Homo sapiens: one gene and its partners. The protein of the gene in region 2 interacts with the protein of the main gene of each other region in a pairwise test. Each region holds a gene or a part of one and is shown on either strand. Other genes may lie near its edges.

The links. Proteins that work in one complex are often made in the same cells at the same time.
Region 1: the proteins of ABHD4 (region 2) and HTATIP2 interact in binary tests that used the Homo sapiens proteins (3 or more experiments, as listed by UniProt).
Region 3: the proteins of ABHD4 (region 2) and PLIN3 interact in binary tests that used the Homo sapiens proteins (3 or more experiments, as listed by UniProt).

Annotation. Positions count from the first base shown.
Region 1 is NC_000011.10:20,366,687-20,373,721, reverse strand, and holds part of HTATIP2 (protein HTATIP2), read right to left. Parts: intron 6,549-7,035; coding exon 6,441-6,548; coding exon of another isoform or gene 6,342-6,440; exon of another isoform or gene 6,067-6,341; intron 1-6,066. UniProt on the Homo sapiens protein: Represses translation by preventing reactivation of elongation factor eEF1A. May also inhibit nuclear import by competing with nuclear import substrates for binding to a subset of nuclear transport receptors.
Region 2 is NC_000014.9:22,608,295-22,613,493, forward strand, and holds the end of ABHD4 ((Lyso)-N-acylphosphatidylethanolamine lipase), read left to right. Parts: intron 1-1,429; coding exon 1,430-1,616; intron 1,617-2,564; coding exon 2,565-2,654; 3' UTR 2,655-4,669; downstream 4,670-5,199. UniProt on the Homo sapiens protein: Lysophospholipase selective for N-acyl phosphatidylethanolamine (NAPE).
Region 3 is NC_000019.10:4,837,833-4,843,694, forward strand, and holds the end of PLIN3 (perilipin-3), read right to left. Parts: intron 1,705-5,862; coding exon 1,360-1,704; 3' UTR 509-1,359; downstream 1-508. UniProt on the Homo sapiens protein: Structural component of lipid droplets, which is required for the formation and maintenance of lipid storage droplets. Required for the transport of mannose 6-phosphate receptors (MPR) from endosomes to the trans-Golgi network.

The sequences.
Region 1 (7,035 bases), on a different chromosome or scaffold from region 2:
GTTTCTTCCCCTCATGCCAGTTTATCAGAACTCTGATTTTAATGACAGGTTAGTTATTCACAACAAAATGACACAGTTGACTAGTGAAATAAATTCAGTTTTTTTGTTGTTGTTGTTTTAGCAAGATTGATTGGAAGGATTATTATAGTAGTCTGTTAAAATACTTTTTCTTTCATCCGTTTCTTTAAAAATAAGGGAAAGATTCAGCCAATCACAAGTCTCCTGACCGACGCTGTCTCTCTCACTTAATCCAGAGCCAGTAAAAGGATAATTTGATTAAACTGAGACCCTAATTTATTTGGCTTTAGTTCTGGATCAACCTCTCCTTAATAGAGTGCTGTCGTCTCCAATTGTTTGATGAAAATTAAAGTGACATAAATACCATGGGACTTTTTCAATCTGATTAGTCAGCGAAGGCACATCAATACCACCCCGGCCATCAGACTTTGGCGTCCTTCCTTTCACCCGCCTCGCTAACGACTGACAACCGCTCCTTGAAGGACGAGCACCCACGCTGCTGCAGAGACCCCCACACTTAGCCCATCATCCCTGCTCAATGGGGCCTGTTGACAAGGTGCCCATACCTTTCTCCATTGCTGTTCTCTGGACAAAGCTAAATATTGTTTTATTAGCAATCAATGGCTGTTAATCCAAAACGATTTCACAAATCCTCTGAGCCTTCAAGCTCATTATAAATACGCGTTTTTCCAAGCCCACTAAATTTTGAATTTCACTTCCGTCACCCTGATGGCGTGGCCTTTTAGCTGGTGAATGAAACTCAAAAGCAAAAGGGTCAACAGCTTTCAAAGACTTAAAAATCAAACTGAAGCATGGGTCCTGATGACTGACTAGGAGGTATCACACACCAATTTTCTCTGGAGTGAGGAAGATTCTATTTACAGATGAAAGGAGCGATCTCGAAAATCTTATTCATGCCCTTTATTGTTCTCCAATAGCTCGATTAAAAAAACAACAGAAAAACTAACTAAAGCAAGCTATTTCATATCTCAGAAACACAATTTTTAGAAAAACTGTACTTAGTTTCCCTAACCATGTGGACAGACATCTCTTCTGAGAGTATTAAGTCCACATGTCATTCTGTCTTTATGATTCCATAGCCAATGTGTCCTGCTCTAAGCTAGGAATCTGAGTCCCTTCTAGAAAAAGGAATTAATTAAATAAGTTCCCACTATAAAGTCCTTTCCCAGCACCCTCTCAAAAAGAATAAACACAGTATACTACACTCAGTAGAGATATCCTCATAGGCTCCACAACATCAAAGGCAGCAAATTCTCCAACGACTCTTAAGTCTTACTAAAATCCAAAGCTACTAAGTATTTCTTCTAATCTTCTTTACCAGTGCCTGAAAACTAAAAACAACATTCTGGCTTCAGAACAACTCATCCTAACAAGGTATAGTATTTCAGTGCTGACTGATAGGACAAGTTAGCACGTCTAAACGACTCAAGAAGGTCATGGGGTCAGGCACGGTGGTCTGTGGTCCCAGCTACTCAGGAGGCTGAAGCAGGAAGATCGCTTGATCCCAGGAATTTGAGTCTAGCCTTGGCAACACAGTGAGACCCTGTCTCTAAAAAATTAATTAATTTATAAAAAAGTAAATCATGGGGATCTTTTTCCAAGAAGGGTGGGTCTATCATTCTGTAAAGGTCCCATTCAGCCCTATTTCTGCTTCAGGTTCTTTCTCCTTCACTCCCTTTCAATCCAACCCTATAAATTAGACTAGAAAACAAAGATGCTGACAAACACCAAATGGTATAATCTGAGGCACCTTTTGTTTGTGTCCTGGAGGGCATCTCCATATTTGATGTTCAATGGTAGGGGAAAGATCTTGGTTAGAGAAGTTCTGGATAGATAAATAAAATCAAGCAGATACTGAGGATTCCTGGGTCAATCTATATGTTCTTGAAAAAGTTTTCCAATTGGATATTCTTTCTTCTGTGTTTCATAGAGTCAAAGAATTTTTCAGGCCGGGTGCGATGGCTCATGGTAATCCCAGCACTTTGGGAGGCCGAGGCAAGCAGATCACTTGAACCCAGGAGTTCAAGACCAGCCTGGGTGGGAAGCATGGCAAAACCCTGTCTCTACAAAAAAAAATACAAAAATTAGCCAGCCATGGTGGCGCATGCCTGTGGTCCCAGCTACTTGGGAGGCTGAGGTGGGAGGATTGCTTGAGCTGGGTAGGTGGAGGCTGCAGTGACCGAAATCGCACTCCTGCAGTGAGCCGAAATCACACAACTGCACTCCAGCCTGGGCGATGGAATGAGACTCTGTCTCAAAAAAACAGAAAAATGTTTAAGAATTTTGCAGTAGGAAGGTGGGTTCACTGGTCACCTCCTTCTGACAGACAAGGAGGTAGTGGCCTCCAAAAGCTAACCAGCAAACTCCAGGCTCCATAGCTACTTGGCAACCAAACAGGGCCTGTGATCTGGGTCCCTTGAACCAGCTAGGACCTCGCCACTTCACAAGCCCCCTCCTAGACATCAAATAAACAACAGAGATTAGAACAAGGGTGGGCAAACTTTTCCTGTAAAGGATCAGACAGTAACTATTTTTAGCTTTGCAGGCCTCTGTTGCAACTATATAGCTCTACCATTATGTTAATAGCACAAAAGCAGCCACAGATAATACATAAAGTAATAAGCATGGCTGTGTCCCAATACCACTTTATGTATAAAGACTAAAATTTGAAGTTTTTATATTTTCACATGGTATGACATTATTCTTTTGAATTTTTTAACCAGTTAAAAATATAGGCCGGGTGCGGTGGCTCACGCCTGTAATCCCAGCACTTTGGGAGGCCAAGACGGGCAGATCACGAGGTCAGGAGATCGAGACCATCCTGGCTAACACGGTAAAACCCCATCTCTACTAAAAATACAAAAAATTAGCTGGGCATGGTGGTGGGCACCTGTAGTCCCAGCTACTTGGGAGGCTGAGGCAGGAGAATGGCGTGAACCCAGGAGGCGGAGCTTGCAGTGAGCCGAGATTGCGCCACTGCACTCTAGCCTGGGCAACTGAGCGAGACTCCGTCTCAAAAAAAAAATATATACATAAAGACATTCTTAGCTCACAGGGTGTACAAAAACAGGTGGCAGGCTGTATTGCAAACCTTTGAATTAGAAGAGCAGATCATTAGAATCAGAAGCCATAAGGTTCTAATGAGATGGGCCATGAGATGCCTAATAAATGTCACAGTGGCCACACTAATCACATTAATGACATCATCCACTCAACAGAAAACAAGAACCTGGACTTCTGGAGCCTACTACGACCAGGTGAGGAAACAAATGAAAAGGTGAAACCACATCGAACCACCTTGAATTCACTAATCAAATCCCTCTTTTGATACAAATAAGGGGAAATGAACTATTCTCACTGGCATCTCTAAGTTTTTGTGCTTCACTCCAGGACAATACAGATCTGGTTTTCAAAGGCTATTTCAATCTTCACTAGCAAACAAGTTACTCACTAAAGCAAGGCAAAGGTTATCCAGGACCACAGTACCCAGAAAACCAGCAAGTGAGGGGAATTAATACACCCCAATGCCTCTTGAAAGTAGGTTCAACAAGAAGGACAGGGTTGACTGCATCAGGATCTCCCAAGGAGCCTGCTAAAAATACAGATTCCAAGCTTCCAAATTCAGAGATGCTGATGCAGTAGATCTGGATCAGGGCCAAGTCAGGGAGCCAGTGCATTGACTGAACAACTGTGTTCTGTGAATATGAAAAGGAAGATTAGCATCTGCCCAGCTACTGTTAAAGGAAATAGTCTTCCAAACAGCTGAGGAAAGCTAATAGACCTTTTCCTAGAACCAGTGTCAATAGAAACCTGAGTAGACTGAATTTTGTGGGTTGGATTACATCCCCCCAAAATGCGTATGTTGAACTCCTAACCCCCATTACCTCAGAATATGACCTTATTTGGAAATAAGTTCATTGCAGATGTAATTAGTTGAGATCATACTAAATAGGGTGGTCCCTAATCCAGTATGACTAGTGGTCTTATAAAAAGGGGAAATGTGGATATAGGCACAGGTATTCAGGGAAAATACCACGTAAAGAGACACAAAGAGAAGGCTGCCATCTACAAGACAAGGAGAGGGCCTGGAAACTCAAGGGCTCAGCCTCAGAGCACTGACCAGCCTGCTGAGACCTGGATCTCAGACTTCTAGCCTCCAGAACTGTGAGACAATACGTTTCTGTTGTTCAAGCTACTTGGGTTATGGCAGCCCTAGCAAACTAATACACTGAACATCACATGGAAATAAGCCACCTACACAGAGGATCTCAATACTGAGACAAAAACGCTGAATTTCTTGAAGTTTCTCTGCTGGAAACACAGACTGCTAAGGCAATATATGAGGTGTTCCAGTTACAAAATCCCTAGTGAAGCGTACTAGTTTTGCCACTAGCTTTGTAGTACTCATATGATAAACCACCCAACGAACTTTTTTCTACAGAGAGGGCTGCTGACCCAGAACACCAGCTGGGATAAGCTTGGAAATCCACAACCTCCACTTAAAACACTATCGTTACTTAGCCACATATGAACTGTCACCTCTTTCATATTGGCTAAAGTTATCAACCTCCCAACTTTATATTGTACACAGCCCAAATTAGTTTTTTTTTTAAAGCCCCCAAAACAAACAAAACACTTTTCTGGTATAAGTGTCAGCTTGCTTTCCACCACTAACCTCTTAAATCATTTAAGTCCTAATTCATTTCTAAGCTAGGTGAATAGTCTAGGCTCATTAGTCTATTCTTGCTTACTAGTTAATTACTTTTATCTTTCCAAATTGATTTTAAAGGAGAACAAAAGGTATTGAATAGCCTGAGACGTGAAGAACCAACCCCATTAAAAAAGAAAATTCTGGATAGTAAAGACACACAATTCCTCTGATTAAAATTGCATTACCCATTTTGAACACAAAAAGCAGTTTAGACTTTTCCCTGGCACACCCTATAATGAGATTTGCCTTATGTCATGAAAATCAACCCTTCTATGCCTAATGCAGCATTTTGTTTTGCTGACTCACCACCAAAACCAGGTTGGCACTTGAGACAAACCTGCAGTGTCCTGGAACAAAAGTTTTTCAATGCTTTTGGAGGGCACACCACTTGTGACTGTGCCTGGGACAGAAAAGACTGCACCCACTGTTAAGCAGGAACATGACCCTTTCTAGGAGAGATAATGTGCCAATTCCTGGGAAAGTCAAACTTCTCTATAATCCATAGTTCCCATCACAGAGCTCCAATCCCAGCTGTGTTCCAGGACAGATAGGCAGAACTGCAGAAGGTATGGAAATACATCTTGATTGAAAGCATACATAGAATTACTCTTTGCATCACAAGGAGGCCCAAAGAAATACATCTGAATCTAACTACTCGGTTGGTATAAATGAATAGTTCTTCACTATATGCTCCCTTAATGTTTCAGGTGAAGGGGTCTGGCTTATAAACCTAAGGAGAATTCCCATGGCAGAGTCATAGTCATATATATATATATTTTTTCTTTTTTCTTGTTTTCCTGGGATTACAGGCATGAACCACTGTGCCTCGGCTTTATTTATTTATTTACTTTTTTCACTTTCTTCTGTTTTATTTATGTATTTATTATTAAATATTTTTAAATTTTACTTTAAGTTCTGGGATACATATGCAGAACATGCAGGTTTTTTCAGCTCCAGCATGTAAATTCTGCCAGAGGAATAAACTATAGTCAAAGTATAAATTAAATAAGATGTACCCGCACTAACATTTGCCCAGAATCCAGGTAGTAAACTCTGATTTCTAACTATGTAGTAAACTATGACTTCTGTACAGGAGCTGACTCAATTTAGAACACCATTAAAAAGAAAATAAAATGTGCGTTAAAAGACTTTTGCGTCAGTAAAGACTGAATCATTAGTGGGGTTGAATCATCGCTGAAGGCTGAGTCATCGCTGGAGGCTGGTTGAATCGTGCCTGTGTTCTGATGTTCTATTCCAGAAGTTTAAAGCTTGACATGAAAATAAGTTGAAGCAAATCACTCAAGTGAGACAGAACATTTCAAATTTCAAACATTTATTAAGGGGAAAAACAGCTGATTGTTAACAGCATAAACCAATTAGTTTTACTCAGACATCATGGTTTCCCTTAGTCAGGGGATGTAGTGATAGCGATAATCACAATAGGCAAAATCATGTAAATATTTACGACGTCTCCAGCACTGGGGCCTGAACTCAAGGATTACTTTGAAAGACGAACTTATCAGTACTATTAAAAGGATACCAAAGGTTAGTGCAGCATATAGAATCTTAAACAATAAAGGCTTATTCACATTTAAGCATTGCAACAGGCACAAAGAAAAAGAGTGAGCAAGAAAAGAATCCTTGATATTACTGGCCAGCAAAAAGGGAAAAGAGCATATGCCTTCCTTACCGCCCCAGCTTTCCCTCTGGTGGTACCCAGGCAACAGAATCCAACATCATGACCTTGAAAGGCAGAGGCGTAGTCATCCAACTTTTCAAAGTCCACCACTTCTTGATTCTAGGCAAGGACACAGTTGTATGTAGTTTCATGTTATTTAAACAACAGACCAAAAACCCCCTCTAGATTTAAAGACTAAGTTACAGAACATTACTGACAGGCCTGTCCACTTAACATCAAATTTTACAAATTCCTTTTCTCCAACCAAAAAGCAATGAACCTCAGTTGAAAATCAACAACACACACATATGTCCACAGTCTATATAACTGGACTAGGGGTGATCCAGATTTCTGAAGTCAGGTTCGATTATAATCTCTCTCTGGAAAAATAAAAGACCTGTGTGTAGCTAACCAGGAAGGAGACCACTGAGGTATGATGTGAGGGCAAGAGATGGCGTTTGGCATCTTAAAGAAGACCTAGCTGCAAATCTTGGGCTTGCTACACTCACTAGGCATGTAGTTACGGGCAAATTATTCATCATACACTACAGCTTTTTTTTTTCAGCTGTAAAATGGGGGTGATAATCTTTCCTTCAGTCCAATCCAT
Region 2 (5,199 bases):
CAAGCCTAGGAGGCAGCAGTGTCCCCAACCTGCCCTATCTCTAGCAGAAGCTGCAGACCAGCCCCAGAAAGCTGGCTCTGCCCCAGCCTTGTGGACACCTCATGATACGGCCTCAATTCATTCTACCTGAGCAAATGACCGGGGAGTGAAATAGATTACATTGGCATTTGTTGTTTCTTGCTTAACAGAAACTGCTGCTCCCCCAGCCCTTGGAAGACTGATTTTTAATTCCAGAGTCTTCTCAGGAAGCCCTTTTTACTACTATAGTACTCACTTTTAAGCGTTCACCTCAGATGAACTTCTGACCATGTCTCTAGACCCCCAACAGGCTAAATCCCCAGTCTGTGTTTTCATAGCACTCGACCACCTTTTCATCCTTCTTGGGAAATTTTAAGTTGTTTTTTGTTTGTTTGTTTGTTTGTTTTTGAGATGGAGGTTTGCTCATTGCCCAGGCTGGAGTGCAATGGCACGATCTCGGCTCACTGCAACCTCTGCCTCCCAGGTTCAAGCGATTCTCCTGCCTCAGCCTCCCAAGTAGCTGGGATTGCTGGCATGCACCACCATGCCTGGCTAATTTTGTATTTTTAGTAGAGATGGGTTTCACCATGTTGGCCAGGCTGGTCTCGAACTCCCGACCTCAGGTGATCTGCCCGCATCAGCCTCCCAAAGTGCTGGGATTATAGGCATGAGCCTCCATGCCTGGCTGTTCGTTTGTTTTTTTGAGACAGAGTCTCGCTCTGTCACCCAGGCTAGAGTGCAGTGGCGTGATCTTGGCTCACTGCAACCTCTGTCTCCCAGGCTCAAGCAATTCTCCTACCTCAGCCTCCTGAGTAGCTGGGATTACAGAAGCGCACCACCACGCCCCGCTAATTTTTGTATTTTTAGTAGAGACAGGGTCTCACCATGTTGGCCAGGCTGGTCTTAAACCCCTGACCTCAAATGATCCGCCCGCCTCGGCCTCCCAAAGTGCTGGGATTACAGGTGTGAGCCACCGTGCCCAGCCCAAGAAATTTTAAATTAAATAACAATTAATCATATGATTAGTTACTTAATGCCTACCTCCCTAACACATGAGCTAAAGTGTGTGAGCTCCAGGAGGGACAGCATCCTGCCTTTCTTGTTCATATGTCCCCTTTCCCAGTCCAGGGCATGACAGAATATTTGTTGAGTCAATAATAACCCATTTCATTCTCAGATTCTTGGACAGTTCGTACTGCCATGGGGTTTTTCACAAGTGTTCCTCCGAACTCTTCTGTGATGGGAGGCCTCTGGAATTTTGGTCTTCCCCTAATCTTACCAATATTTAATGAGCCCAGTGTGGGGCTTTGACAGGAATACAAAGGTGACTAAGATTCTGCCTCAGTCTCTGAAGAGACCAACAAGTTGACATATTCTGCTGTGAAGTTTATTGCTGTTTTGCTTTTGACAGTGGTGAGACAGCATTCAAAGCCATGATGGAGTCCTTTGGCTGGGCCCGGCGCCCTATGCTGGAGCGAATTCACTTGATTCGAAAAGATGTGCCTATCACTATGATCTACGGGTCCGACACCTGGATAGATACCAGTACGGGAAAAAAGGTGAAGATGCAGCGGCCGGATTCCTATGTCCGAGACATGGTATGTTGCACCACCCAAGGAGTGGAAATGATGACTGAGAGTCAATCACCTCTCAGCCTTGGGGTAGAGAAGGGTGATCAAGGAGAAAGAGGAATGGACAGACTGAGATAGAGCAGTAGATTTGAGAAGTTTGGAAACTCTCTTTGGAATATCTTTTTTTTTTCGTGATGGAGTCTCGCTATTGTTGCCCAGGCTGGAGGGCAATGGTACAATCTCGGCTCACTGCAACCTCCGCCTCCCGGGTTCAAGCGATTCTTCTGCCTCAGCCTCCCGAGTAGCTGGGATTATTAGCATGCGCCACCACGCCCAGCTAATTTTGTATTTTTAGTAGAGACGAGGTTTCTCCATGTTGGTCAGGCTGGTCTCGAACTCCTGACCTCACGTGATCCGCCCACCTTGGCCTCCCAAAGTGCTCGTATTGTACTACCTTCATTAGGGGCTTCCTGCTTTTAGCCCAGTTCAGCTAAAAGGCTGGTTCTTGTCTAGCAGCCAGGCACCTGCTGCTACTCCAGCCCCCATGTAGTTTCTACCCCAAAACCAGAGCCATGGGCAGTAGAGTGAATAGTAGAGGCTGCCATGAAGCTTCCCCACCACACCTCCTCCCCTTTTTTCTTACCCCTCTCCGCCATGTGCCAATGAGTGTGCTTAATGAGGCTGGGTGCCAACCATGGGCCCAGGTTTACTGGACCTTTGGATTAAATGAGCAGATCAGTGGTGGGGCTAACACAGAAGGAAAGACACAGTGAATGTTTATCAAGTAAGTAGAATGGGAAAGCATTGGCTGTCAAAGGAAAATACCAAGATCCAAGCGAGAAAGGTGGAGCATTATCTCTGATAAGAGCTCGTGGGTGGCAGGCAAGCAAGTCTAAGGGGAAAAGAAATAGCGTGAAGGCTTCCCAGCACCAGGAATAAAAGGCCATCCCACCCCTGCGGGTTCTCTCTCCACAGGAGATTAAGGGTGCCTCCCACCATGTCTATGCTGACCAGCCACACATCTTCAATGCTGTGGTGGAGGAGATCTGCGACTCAGTTGATTGAGCTGCTCTCTGAAGAGGAAGAGGAGAAAGCCAGAGAGTCACTCTTACCTCCCTGTCTGCTTACTCACCCACTCTGTCCTTTCCTCACCAACTAACATGTGCCAGCCAGGCAGAGTCTTGTGCTGTTCCCAGAACAGGACGACAGTGAAAAGAACACTCTTGACCCTACACTGAAGGCTGAAGGCAGAAGCCACAAGAGGCCTTGAGTGCCACCCCCAGGGAAGAACATAAAGGGTTGCACAATGCCACCCATCCACTCCTTGCCAAGTGTTACCCAGATGGTGGAGGATGTGAAGGGATTGCACCAAGCCACATTCACTCTCTCTGTGGCCTTTCTTCCTCTGGGCAAAGAAGGGCTTCCAGTGGCCTTTCCTCACTCTGTAGTGTTTGTGGGGATAGGTTCCATGCAAGAACACCTTCCTCCTCCATCCCCCACTTCACCCCATCCCATACCAGTTCCATCCAGGGTCTGCTTAACTGCCAAGAGCAGGTCCTGGAGTTCCCTTCACCTGCAGAGTCCTTTTCATGACCTAGGAGGTCTTATTCAAAGCCCTCATTGACAGAGGAGGAAACAGGCCAAGGCAGGACATGGCTGGACCATGGTGATACAGCTCTGTGTGATTCAAGTTCTGGCAGAGCTTGTAAGGCTAGAGCCCAGGTCTGCCGACACCCTGTGCTTGTTGCACACTTGATTTGCTAAGGCTGGAGACAGGCACCATTGCCATGGGGCTGGTCCTAGTCACTGGCCGAGGATAAGCCCGTCCCTGTCCCACATTCTAGCCCCACTATGCGGGGGTGCTGTTGTCCTGCCTGTGTCTCATCCCCGGCTGCCTAAGCTAGGGACACTCAAGTGCTTCCTTCCTTGCCCCATCTTCCTCCCAACTGGAGGCCTCTGAGCCTCCCCTGTGCCTTGGGCCCTGAAGCCCCATATGTAGTATAGAGCAAAGGTGGCTCCTGGTGAAGAGAGGGTGGAAAGGCCCTTCAGCCCCAGGGCCATGTCTGGGTTCTCCATGCCCATCAGTCTCTGCAGTTTCTCTACCTGCCCCCAGAGCTGAGGCCATCTGCAAGCCCCTGCCCATGGCCCAATGGGGAGCCTCCAGCCACAAGTTCCCTGTCCTTATCAGCCACTGGGTGGTTCCCACTGCATGACCCTCTATCCCTGCCATCTGTCCCCATGGTTTCCAGCTCAATCCACCCCTGACCCATCTGTCAGCTTTTTCCCAGGGAGCCGTTTCAGGGGTTCTGGGCAGTAGGCTGGGCCTGGCCTCAGAACCTGGTGGCTCCTGCCTGCTCCTTCACTTTTGTAAAACCATCCCCTTCACCAGAATGGTATTAACTCCTGGTGCTTTGTACTACTGGTCCAGCTGCCCTGGGCTCCTTTTCTATATTAATAAAGAAACGAGTAAAAATTACCGGTGGGGATGATGTTTAAAATTGCTCTGATCACTGGTGGTGCTGAATTCGCAACAGCCTGTGTGATGCCTGAGAGAAGGGAGTCCTGAGGGTTGCCTGCCTACCCACGACTCCTTCTCCTTTTAGTGTGGCGTTTGCCCGCTAGACCCAGCCCAGAGTCCAGGTCAGCACAGGCCCTCTCAGCCAACCACTCATGACAAATGAGGAGTCGAGATCCACAGTGTGGATGGGGCAAGCCCCAGTTCACAGTAGAGAGGTGGAACTTAGTACTTCCTGCTGCCCATTAGACACCCTTTCTTCCTAAGTTCAAGGGAAGCCCACACATGTACTGCTCCCTGCATCCTGCTCTAACTTCCTCTCATCCTCTGGATCTCAGCTCAAATATTCCTTATGCAGAGATGCCTTCCCCTGATTCCCTAAACTAGACTCGGACCCCTCTGTTCTGCATCTCTGTGGCATATCATCTGCCCCTTTTGTAAAACTTATAAACTTGTGGTTACTTGTTTAGCGTCTCTTTCCTCCCCAGACCATAAGCAACATAAAGACAAAGGGTACATCTAGCACATAGTTCGTGTTCAATAAATGTTTGTTTTCATCATGCCACGGGAAGTGAGATATACCAAGTATTCAAAAAAGTGTTCAAATCATTACTAACAGTGCTTGCTCTGTGCTGGCTGAGTCCAGCTGGGCCCAGAATTCCACGGTTCTAAATGGCGCATATTCCATGTGCATAGGCTGATTGAAAATGTATTAAACCTAAATTTTAAAAAAAAAGCACATGATACTACACATGTCATGATGAATGAATAGACAGAACTCCTCCTGAATATAATTACAAAGTTCTGATCCATCTCAGGACCCTGTGTCTTCTCTGAGGATTTTTATAGGGAGGAGAAGGCAGGTATATAGAGCTTACTACATGCCAACCACTAGGGCTGCAATAGTGAAGAAACAGAGAGTGTCTGCCTTTGTGAGAAATTCCAGTTCACTCAAAGAGATGCACCTAGTCAAAATATTATGTAAATCAATGTAAAATTGCTAAAGTGCTACCCGTGAGAATTGAGAAAACCTCCTGCAGAAGTGATGGCAGCTGTGCCTGAAGGCAGGACCAGGGAAAGGGGAAGGACTGTCTG
Region 3 (5,862 bases), on a different chromosome or scaffold from region 2:
CTGTTGCCCAGGCTGGAGTGCAGTAGTGCGATCTTGGCTCACTGCAGTCTCAAACTCCTGGGCTCAAGTGACCCTCCCACCTTACCATGCCTGGCTAACTTAAAAAAAAAAAATTTGTGTAGAGATGGGGTCTTGCTATGTTGCCCAGGCCAGTCTCAAACTCCTGGCCTCAAGTGATCCTCCCACCTCGGCCTCCCAAAGTGCTGGGATTACAGGCGTGAGCCACTGTGCCAGGCCTGCCAGTGTCTTGATCTTGGACTTCCCCGCCTCCGGAACTGTGAGAAATCAATTTCTGTTGCTCATAAATTACCCAGCCTGGCCAGGCACTTTGGGAGGACGTGGTGAGAGGAACGCTTGAGCTCAGGAGTTCAAGATCAGCCTGGGCAACATAGCAAGACCCCGTCTCTACAAAATAAATAAATGAATAAATAAATTACCCTGCCTAAGATATTTCTGTTCTAGCAGCAGGGACAGATGAAGACACACACACGTACACACATGGCCTGTATGCAGTTGTGGGTGAAGTTTATTAAGGCAATACTGAATACCAGAGCATTTCAACAAGGCTTACCACACAGGCCCCAGTACCTTTCTACTCTACAATGAGGCTCAGAAGCTCAGTGTACCACCCCATCCCCAGGAGGCCCACTTAGACCAGAAATCCCAAGTCCATTAGCTACAGGCTGATATTCAGGGACATCGGTGTAAACAAAGAAGTGGGATATGAACTATATCCCTGATTTTTTTTTCTTTTTTTTTTTTTTTGAGACTAAGTCTCACTCTTGTCCCCCAGGCTGGAGTGCAATGGCGCGATCTTGGCTCACTGCAACCTCCGCCTCTCAGGTTCAAGAGATTCTCTTGCCTCAGCCTCCTAACTGGGATAACAGACACCTGCTACCATGCCCGGCTCATTTTTTTTTGTATTTTTAGTAGAGACGGGGTTTCACCATGTTGGCCTGGCTGGTCTCGAACACCTGACCTCAGGTGTTCCGCCCGCCTCAGCCTCCCAAAGTGCTGGGATTACAGGTGTGAGCCACCGCACCCGGCCTATATTCCTGATATTTAACAAGGAAAAAAAATTCTGCAGGGGAGAACTTTCCTGAAAGATATTTTTTCTGGACATCTCTCTCTACTGACTGATAGGGTGAGGCTCAGAACAGGCTTCTTCCAAGCTCAGAGAGGCTGAGAGATGGGTCAACTGGGTGATGCCCGTTTTGAGAGCCTTAGCTTCCCAAGTGGACAGCACAGAAGAGCTGGGAGGAGTGGCTAGAAAATAAGTTTGAAATGAGCCCCGGGTTGAGGACTCCAGAGCACAGCTGCATTATAGAGACGGGGCCCGCTGAGTCCTCTCCTCTCCCCCTACTTCTTCTCCTCCGGGGCTTTCTCAGTGATTCCAGGGGCAAAGGGTCCCACGAGCCACGTGACAGGTGTGTTCTGGGCCACATATTCCACCATGTGGTCCAGGGCCTCGCGGGCGCTGGCGACACGCTCACGGCTCTGGGCCAGAATGCTGCTGGACAGGTCCTGGAAGGAGTGGATGCTGGAAAACGTGGCCTGGAGGTCCTCCACCTGGCGGCGGGCCTGCTGCACCTGGTCCTTCACATTGGTGGGGAGGCCCTGAATGCTGGACCCCAGGGAGGTACAGGTGGCCTGCAGTTGCTGGGCAATGTCCCGGAACATGGTGAGCGCCCGGGACTCGACCTGCTGAGAAGGGAGATGGGGACACCAATCAGGACCATTTGTTTCAGGAAAGGCGATCGGAGCTGAAGCCAGGGAAAGAGGGGAAGAGGGGTTCTACCACTGACCTTGGGGCAAACGCTTTCCATAGGCGAAACTTTTTTTTTTTTTTTTGAGACGGAGTCTCGCCCTGTCGCCCAGGCTGGAGTGCAGTGGCACAATCTCAACTCACTGCAAGCTCCGCCTCTCAGGTTCGCGCCATTCTCCTGCCTCAGCCTCCCGAGTAGCTGGGACTACAGGCGCCCACCACCACGCCAGGCTAATTTTTTGTATTTTTAGTAGAGACGGGGTTTCACCGTGTTAGCCAGGATGGTCTTGATCTCCTGACCTCGTGATCCGCCTGCCTTGGCCTCCCAAAATGCTGGGATTACAAGCGTGAGCCACCGTGCCCGGCCCTTTTTTTTTTTTTTTTTTTTGAGATAGAGTCTTGCTCTGTTGCCCAGGTTGGCGTGCAGTGGCATGATTTTGGCTCACTGCAACCTCCGCCTCCCAGGTTCAAGCGATTCTCCTACCTCAGCCTCCCGAATAGCTAGGACTACAGGCGCGTGCCACCACGCCCGTCTAACTTTTGCATTTTTAGTACAGATGGGGTTTCACCATGTTGGCCAGGCTGGTCTTGAACTCTACCTCAAGTGATCGGCCCTCCTTGGCCTCCCAAAGTACTGAGATTACAGGCATGAACCACCGCGCCCAGACTCTTTTCTTTTAATTAGAAACAGGATCTCACTTTGTCGCCCAGGCTGGAGTGCAGTGGCGTGATCATAGCTTACTACAGCCTGTAACTCCTGAGCTCAAGTTATCCTCTCATTTCAGCCTGCCTGACTACAGGCACTCACTACCACGCCCAGCTACATTTTTAAAATTTTCTGTAGAGCCAGGATCTCACTAAGTTGCCCAGGTCTTAAACTCCTGGGCCCAAGTGACCTGCCCACTTCAGCCTCCCAAAATGCTGGAATTACAGGCACGAGCCACTGCATTTGGCCACTAGTCAAATTCTTTAAAGGGCATAGACAAATCACCAAAGAAGATATAGGGAGAGCACATGAAAAGCTGTTTGACCTTATAAGTCATTGAGGAAATGCAAATCAAAACCATAAGGAGGCCTGGCATGGTGGCTCATGCCTGTAATCCCAGCACTTTGGGAGGCCAAGGTGCGTGGATCACCGAGGTCAGGAGTTCAGCCTGACCAACATGGCGAAACCCGCATTTCTACTAAAGATACAAAATTAGCCGGGTGTGGTGGCATGTGCCTATAATCCCAGCTACACAGGAAGCTGAGGCAGAAGAACTGCTTGCACCCAGGAGGCGGAGGTTGCAGTGAGCCAAGATCATGCCATTGCACTCCAGCCTGGGCAACAGAGCGAGACTCTGTCTCAAAAACAAACAAACAAACAAAAACCCCAGAGGCTATCAGATGATACCCACTGTCAGTCAAGAGGCGGAGAAATTGGAAGCCTCGTGTATTGCTGGTGGTATAGTTACTTTGGAAAACAGTCTAGCGGTTACTCAAAATGTTAAACCATAGAATCATCATATGACTCGGCAATTCTAGTTGTGGGTGTGTGCACAAGAGAAACGGAAACATACGTCCACACACAAAGACATGCACACAGGGGCACAGCAAAAAGTAGAAACGACTCAAGTGTCCTTCGGTTGATAAATGGGTGAACAGAATGTGATCCACCCATACAACAGAATGTGACTCAGCCATGGAACGTCATGGGGCTCTGACCCAGGCCACAGCATGGGTGAGCCCTAAGGACGTCACGCTCAGCGCGAGAAGCCGGACACAAAAGGCCAAACAGGGTGTGATCCCATTTCTATGAAATGTCCAGGACAGGCCCATCCAGAGACAGGAGGGGATACGTGGTTGGGAGGAGGAGGAAATGGGGCAGTGACTGCTGATGGGAAAAGGGTTTCTTTTTAGGGGCATGAGATGAGATAGGGATAGTTGCACAATGCTGAGAACCAGCGATGTGTATGCTTTAAATGCGTGACTTGTATGGTATGCAAATGAGATCTCAATAAAACTGTTAAAAAAAAAAAAAAGGCTGGGTGCGGTGGCTCACCCCTGTAATCCCCAGCACTTTGGGAGGCCGAGGAGGGTGGATCATGAGGTCAGGACGATCGGGACCATCCTGGCTAACATGGTGAAACCCCATCTCTACTAAAAAAACACAAAAAAATTAGCTGGGCATGGTGGCGGGAGCCTGTAGTCCTAGTTACTTAGGAGGCTGAGGCAGGAGAATGGCGTGAATCCGGGAGGCGGAGCTTGCAGTGAGCCGAAATCGCGTCACTGCACTCCAGCCTGGGCGACAGAGCGAGACTCCATCTCAAAAAAAAAAAAAAAAAAAAAAGAAAAAAAAAAGCTGTTAAAAAACAAAAAGTGGAAGCCAGGCTGGGACAGCCTGGAAGAACTTTCTAGGCAGAAGTTGTAAACCATCCGGGGAGAACATAGTTGAAATCAGGTCCTTGAAAATTTCCTTGGCCAGAGAGTGAGATGAGCACAGACAGGGTTCGAGACCAGCCTGGCCAACATGGTGAGACCCCATCTCTACTAAAAATACAAAAATTAGGCCGGGCGCAGTGGGTCAGGCCTGTAATCCCAGCACTTTGGGGGGCCAAGACGGGTGGATAACTTGAGGTTAGGAGTTCTAGACCAGCCTGGCAAACATGACAGAACCCTGTCTCTACTAAAAATACAAAAAAATTAGCTGGGTGTGGTTGCAGGCGCCTGTAATCCCAGCTACTTGGGAGACTGAGGCAGGAAAATTGCTTGAACCCAGGAGGTGGAGGCTGCAGTGAGTCAAGATCACGCCACTGCACTCCAGCTTGGGTGACGGAGTGAGACTCTGTCTCAAAAATAAATAAATAAATCAAATTAGCTGGGCGTGGTGGCAGGTGCCTGTAGTCTCAGCTACTCGGGAGGCTGAGGCAGGAGAATCGCTTGAACCCGGGAGGCAGAGGTTGCAGTGAGCCGAGATCATGACATTGCACTCCAGCCAGGGTGACAGAGTGAGACTCTATCTCAAAAAAAAAAAAAAAAAAAAAAAAGGCACACACTGGGAGGTAGGGTTTTGCCCAGAGCCCTGGCAGCTGGAGGACTCTGGACTTGAGCGAGGGATTACGGGAGAGTGCCCACGTGAGAGAGATAAGATCTGGTTTTTTCATTTGAAAAGTCATTCTGGCTGCTGTGCTTAGCAGTCGGGGAAACAGGAGACAGTTTTAGGCAGCAGGTGGTCTAGTTCTGCCTCCCGAACAATTTGCATTTATAGAGATATTCACCATATCTTTATGCATGTCACTTTTGTAGCCCTTACTATGTGCTTTTGATATGATCTCATTTCAGTTTTTAAAAAATCGATCTGGGTCCGGGCACGGTGGCTCACGCCTGTAATACCAGCACTTTGGGAGGCCGATGTGGGCGGATCACCTGCGGTCAGGAGTTTGAGACCAGCCTGGCCAACATGGCGAAACCCCGTGTCTACTAAAAAGTACAAAAATTAGCCGGGCGTGGTGACGCATGCCTGTAATCCCATCTACTGGGGAGGTGGAGACAGGAGAACCACTTGAACCCAGGAGGCAGAGGTTGCAGTGAGCTGAGATTGTGCCACTGCACTCCAGCCTGGGCAACAGAGCAATAAATAAATAAATAGGCAGGGTGCGGTGGCTCACGCCTGTAATCCCAGCACTTTGGGAGGCCGAGGCGGGCGGATCACAAGGTCAGCAGATCAAGACCATCCCGGGTAACACGGTGAAATCGCGTCTCTACTAAAAATACAAAAAAAATTAGCTGGGCCTGGTGGCGGGCGCCTGTAGTCCCAGATACTCGGGAGGCTGAGGCAGGAGAATGGCGTGAACCTGGGAGGCAGAGCTGGTAGTGAGCTGAGATTACACCACTGCACTCCAGCCTGGGTGACAGAGCGAGACTCCATCTCAAAAAATAAATAAATAAATAAATAAATAAATAATTGATCTGGGGTCGGGTGTGGTGGCTCATGCCTGTAATCCCAGTGCTTTGGAAGGCTGAAGTGGGAGTATTGCTTGACACCAGGAGCTCAAGACCAGCCTGGGCAACACAGTGAGATCCTGTCTCTACTAAAAATTAAAAAAAAAATTAGCCAG